Linked DNA regions of Homo sapiens: region 2 is linked to region 1. A link means that fine-mapping ties the variant in region 1 to the plasma level of a protein whose gene starts in the linked region. Region 1 holds a variant in brackets. A gene starts in the other region. All regions are shown on their reverse strands.

What was found. PIP is the posterior inclusion probability: the model's chance that the variant is causal. Protein levels are from antibody-based Olink assays in UK Biobank. Linkage for the fine-mapping came from a reference panel and not from the study's own genotypes, which makes the PIPs less certain.
Region 2: it holds the start of DYNC1H1, and the variant in region 1 is fine-mapped to the plasma level of the DYNC1H1 protein (UK Biobank, PIP 0.92).

Annotation. Positions count from the first base shown.
Region 1 is chr1:247,842,643-247,845,549 of GRCh38, reverse strand. No RefSeq gene overlaps it. Among named protein-coding and RNA genes, the nearest start is that of OR11L1, 2.2 kb to the right of the region's middle. The variant G/A (reference allele first, on the strand shown) is at 1,815.
Region 2 is chr14:101,963,039-101,965,945 of GRCh38, reverse strand. It overlaps DYNC1H1 (dynein cytoplasmic 1 heavy chain 1), which reads right to left and starts at 1,373. Exons shown (of 78, transcript NM_001376.5): 1 at 999-1,373. The coding sequence starts at 1,254. RefSeq lists silencers at 681-890, 1,381-1,540 and enhancers at 416-1,025, 1,026-1,636, 1,681-1,820.

The sequences.
Region 1 (2,907 bases):
AGGGCAGTTTTTACAGGACGCTTCTGTTCAAGCTTGAGACATAAATTTGAGGGCTGAGAGCAAAGTGACAGCATTCAAGTCAAGAGACTGCCTGAAACTGTGAAGGAAATGAAGGTAGATTGAAAGACACGAAGCCCTGTACAAGTGTGAAAAACCAGGGCTGTCGCTGATCTAAGAGAGTATGTAGTTGTGGATATTAAGTGACCAGTGGATCCAGGAAGAGGGAGGGATCAATGGTGCGATGATGCCACAGATGAAGAGGATCGGGAATGCGATGGGTGGTTGGAGGGCAATGCCAGCACAGCTGCGCCGTCTGGGGCAGTGGCAAGAAAAACATCCTGATCATAGTGCATTCCAGCGAGCAAGAAGGCAGAGGACGAGGAGCAGCAGGGAGGGACAGTGCCCTCCAGAAGGGAAAGCATCGGGAAAAGGGAGCAGAAAAGTGCAGGTAGTATTCAGAGAACAGCAAAGCCTCTAGACATTCTTCTCTGTTTTGTCTTTTTAAAGTGGGGGAGAGAAATCCAGCCCATTGACATGCTGAGGAAATGCTTTGGCAGAAAGGGCACCATGGGTGATTCAGGCATGAAGCTGAGAATACCCAGTGAAGGAGAGAAAAAAAGAATTTCTCTTCTCGACTTTCATTAAATTCACTGCTAGGACAGATTTTCATGAGCAAAACGCAGATCACCAAGAGAAAAACAAGCATGTTTATTTATGCATGTCATGCCCATCCACAAGAAAGAAAGCAGCTCTCTCAGGAAAACGGCTCACCTAGATTGTTGCGACGGTTTGGAAGCAGTGGCTTTGAGGCCTTGCTGAAATAGTATCTTAGCAAGGAGCCATACATCCTCTACGGTGACAAAACAAAAAAAACGGCATCTTCAGGCTTCCCAAAAGCAAGACATTTGGGAAGGAAAATTTACAGGAAGAGTAGTCTGTTCCGAGATCCCTGGCGTTGCTGTCTGAGCTGAGAAGCAAGCATTATAAAGGAGACTGTCTTCAGGTGGGAAGAGGCAGAGGGGAGGCAGGAAGACCTTTGTCTTTGTAAATCTTGGTCCTGCCTTCAGGAAAGCAGAGGAAGGGGCAGGTCCCCTGTGTGTTCGTCTTCTTCAGCTCAACACTCCTGAGTCTTTTGGATAGGAATAGTTTTGCCTCTGTCACCTGCAATACCTTTCCAGTGTGTAGGAGGTTATGGCGCCTAATGCCCAGGTGGAAGGATTTGCCTTAGACTTGGACACAGATAGTTTACTCAGAGGAAGTGTAGGGAGTAGGTGCACAGGAACAAAAGGTAGTCGATGGCAGAATTTAGTGGCCTGAGCTTGTGGATACTTCCACTGAAGGATTTCAGGATCTTCCAGTGAAATAAGTCTCTTACTGAGGGTACAGAGCAACAGGGATGTGCTAGACGTTCGAAAAGAGAGCAACATAAGTGAAATAGTCACTTAGGAGATTGGAAGAGTGAATAGATACGGGTATTGATAAAAACCAAAGTCTGTAACAAATATTTGAAGAGGTTTATTCTGAGCCAAATTTAAAGACCATGATCTGTGACAGTCCCAGGAGGTCCTGAGAATATGTGCTTAAGGTGGTTGTGTTACAGCTTGACTTTATCCATTTTAGGGAGACATAAGACATCAATCAGTACGTGTGAGCTATGCGTTGGTTTGGTCTGGAAAGGCAGGACAGCTCCAAGAATGGGGGAAGGTTACAGTCATACGTGGATGCAAAGACTTTTTGATTGGCAACTGGTTGAAAGAATTAAGTTATTGTCTGAAGACCTGGAATCAATAGAAAGGAGAATCTGGGTTAAGATA[G/A]GGGGGTTGGGGAAACCAAGGTTCTTATGATGTAGATGAAGTCTCATATGTTGCCAGCCTGAGAAGCAGCAGATGGGAAAAATGTTCTATTGAGACCTTTAAAAGGTGCTAGACTTTCAGCTAATCTCTTGAGGATCAGACAAAGGCCTGGAGAGGGAAAGGGATTCTCCGCAGAATGTAGATTTCCCCCACAAGAGACAGCTTTGCAGGGCCATTTTAAATATGACAAATAAATATATTTTGTGGTAAAATATTTCCATTTCCTTCAGGGTCGGCTGTCTGTCATGATGCTATACTAGAGTCAGGTTAGAATTTGGTAGCTTATTTCTACAGAGTCTGTTTCGTCAGCCTTAAAATCTCTTTTTTGATGTTATTGCTGCTCAGTTATGCCTGAATTCTGAAGAAAGGAGAGTGTAATGAGGTTTGTCCAACCCCCTCTTCCCATCATGATCTGAACCAGAATTTTTAGGTTTCTTTGAAATCCCCTTGGCTGAAAGGAGGAGTCCGCTCAGTCAGTTGTGGGGTTTAGAATTTTATTTTTGGTTTATAAGGGAAATACAGAATGATTGCTCTCCAGCAGTAAGGGCACACTGAGTTTGTTGGTTGTACATTTTAAAGAGGTTCTATTCTTGCTTGTCTCACTCCCTCAACTTCACAGAAGCTCCTGTATGGCAGGTGGATGTTTACTTTATCCAGAACTATAGACAATGAATTAAATGAAAGAATAAAAGGTGTACACGAGGGTGTAATTATAGTGGCTGAGCATGAGTATGGTATCGGATGAGGCAAGAAAGGACACCAGTGGAGTGAGGCAGATTAGTTCAGCACAGGCCTTCACACACACACACACACACACAAACACACACACACAAACACACACACACAGCAGGGACTAATAAATATTGTTTGAGGGTGGAATATATACACTTTCCCAAGATGGCATAGGAGATGTGCTGTGTCTGGCTTCTTTTTCAGACAAAGCCCACAGATGAGAAGGGAAAGGCATTTGCTTCCACATGTGCATGATTTTTTTTTTTTTTTTGAGACGGAGTCTCGCCCTGTCACCCAGGCTGGAATGCAGTGGTGCGATCTT
Region 2 (2,907 bases), not on the chromosome of region 1:
CAAGCCCCAGACTTAGATGAATGTAACCTTGCTGGTGGGCGATCATTATTTGAGGAGACAGCTGGAACACGCTAACTCTAGCCTCTTCCCCCTACTAGGTGCCTAACCTGAATCTTTTTTTTTTTTTTTAATCTGTAAAATTAGACTCAAATATTACAGGGTTATCATTAACATCATCGAAGCATTAAACAAATATGAGGTATGATCAGTGAAAACAAGCAGTGGATGGGGAGCTGAGACACTGAGTCTAGTCTCAGGACTAAGATTAGCTGGTGACCTTGGGTGAAATCACTTAACCTGAGCCTCAGTTTCCTCAGGTGTAAAATCAGGATACACCCGTTCAGCAAGGATGCTGTGAGAGCATCCACCTACAACAGTGATGCTCGCAGGCCCGGGGCTGGCACCGTCGCTCTGTGGGCCTCGGCCTCTGGGTCCCCACAAGGCAGGGCTGGGACACCCGCCCGACCTCCTCCCGAACCAGAACCCCGGCTGCCCCCAGCTCCGCGGGTCTGCCCCCGACACATCCCTCCCGAAGGCCACTTGGCTTGGACACAAATCGAAACCGAAAAGCTCATGTGACACTGGAGGCAGGGATGCGGCCTCGCCCGCTCTCAGCCCAGGGAGACGCTGTCTCCACCCAACTCGGCCATCTTGAGAGGCCCGAGCAGACAAAGCGACCCCATTGTTTTGGGTGACGGCAGACGGGGACCCCTTTCCCCTCCCCGCGACCAGGAGCGGGGCGCCCTGGGGGCTCCGGGCCGGGCAGTGGGTGTGGCGAGGGCGAGCCCCGGGCGCCGCGCCGGCCTCTGCGGGGCGTCTGCGGCCCTGGGGACCCGGCCGGCGGGACGTCTGCGGCCGCCGGGCTCTGCCCATCCAGGGGTCATCTGCAGCTGCCGGGCTCCTCCCATCCCGGGGACATCTGCGACCCCGGAGGACCTGGCAGGCCCTGCATTCCGCGAGGCCTGGCTCTGGCGACCCTGCCCTCCGCGGCCCCGCACCTTTGAGCGTGGAGCGCTCCACCAGCACCGTGTGGACCTGCGGGTCCGAAAGGAACTTGCGCATCTGCTCCAGGGCGCTCTTCTCCTCCAGCGCCGCCTCCAGCGCGGCCGGCGCCTCGCCGCCGTCCTCCAGCAGCAGCGGCACCAGCTTGCGCAGGTGCTTCTGCAGCACCGACACGTCCGCCACATTCTGCACGGCCGACACTTCCAATCCGGCCGAGCCGTCCTCGCCGCCGCCGCCCCCGGGCTCCGACATGGTGTCGCGCTCGGGACCTTCCAGGAGCGATGAGAAGGCGGCCGCGACTCAGCGAGACAGCCAGCAAGAGACAGAAACGGCCGCCGGAAGCCGGACCGTCCGCTAGCCCACCGCAGACTGAGGAGAGCGGGAGCCGGCTCCGCCCTAAAGGCAGCCACTGCCAGGTGGCCCCGCCCCGCCCCGCCGGCCGCAGCCGCCGCAGCCACCCGCGCTCGCTCGCGGCCTTAGCGTCACGGCGCCGCGCGTGCGCGGGGGGCGGGCCCGGCGATGTCGCCGCGCGCCCTTCTGGGACTTGTAGTCTCGGCGCTGGTCGGGGCCCGCAGCCTCCGCACTGCGAGTCCTAGGAGATGGGGACTTGGCTCAACGTCCTGGCTCGGCGCCCGGGCTTGGCGAGGTTGGTCAGGGGCTGCGTCTGTCTTCTTCACTGCTGTGGACGCAGCGAATAGCACACAGCCAGAGAAACTTTATAGTGAATCAGTGATGTTATTGGCGAGAGCTAACGTTTAGTGAGCGCTTAGCCTGTGCCCGGCGTTGTTCTAAGCCCCTTAACCTCTCATTAAATGTTCTCTCATTGAATGAATGAATGACTACGTATCAGGTACCAAAATATAGGCACGACAGATGTGTTATTAGATATAGACCGGGAGATTGAGGATACTTTTCAGAGGGGGAGGAGATGAGGGGCGTGCTCAGAGAGTCCCATTGCCAGGCTGGAAACGGACAGCTGGGGAGGGGGCCTTCGGGGCAGTGTAAGGTTAAGCCAGGAATGACACCTTCACTGTACGTAAAGCCAAGCTGTGATGGGATCTGGTTCCTAATGACAAAAATCATTGTCCCCGAGGACGCTGTGAGGACCAAGAGGGAGACCTACTGAGAACAGCTACCTCCAGCAATGGCTCTCCTCCAGCCCCCTAGAGCTGGCACTGTCATTCTGTGGGCCTCAGTATCTGGGTCCGTACAAGGCAGGGGCTGGGTTGCCTGCCCACCAAGTTTCCCCCTAGTTCGGACCCACCACGACCTCCTCCCCTACACCATGACTACATAAGAGCCAGAATCCAGGCTGCCCAGCTGGGTGCGGTGGCTCACACCTGTAATCCTAGCATTTTGAGAGGCTGAGATGGGAGGATTGCTTGAGGCCAGAAGTTCCAAGACCAGCCTGGTCAACCTAGCGAGACCCTATATCTATGTGTATTTAAAAATTAAGAATTTTGTAAAATAATAAAAATAATAGAATCCAGGCTGCCCATCTTTGTAGTTTAGAGATGGTAGGTTCTTCTAAGGGGTAGTAATTGGCCTTTGAAAGTTCACATTCATAACTTCTTTCTTAAGTTGGGTGGAGAGAGGGAAGCCAATGGCGTTTTTTTTTTTTTTGGTTTTTTTGTTTTTTTTAAACATCAAAGTGCACTGTCAGAGTGCCGAGTCCTGATTGGTGGAATGATGATGGTATGATTTGATTCTCCCAAATCATCTTTGAAAAACTGTGAAACATACAATAAGCTTATTCCTTGCCTAATTACCGGTTGCTGGGTCCCAGGGGGTTGCTGGAACACGGAGACTAATCAGATGATTCTTGTCTTTAAGGAGCATGTGGAAGAGGGGACAGATGAATACCCCATCTTCCTGCTCTCCATCAGTCCGCCCTGGTGTGATGTG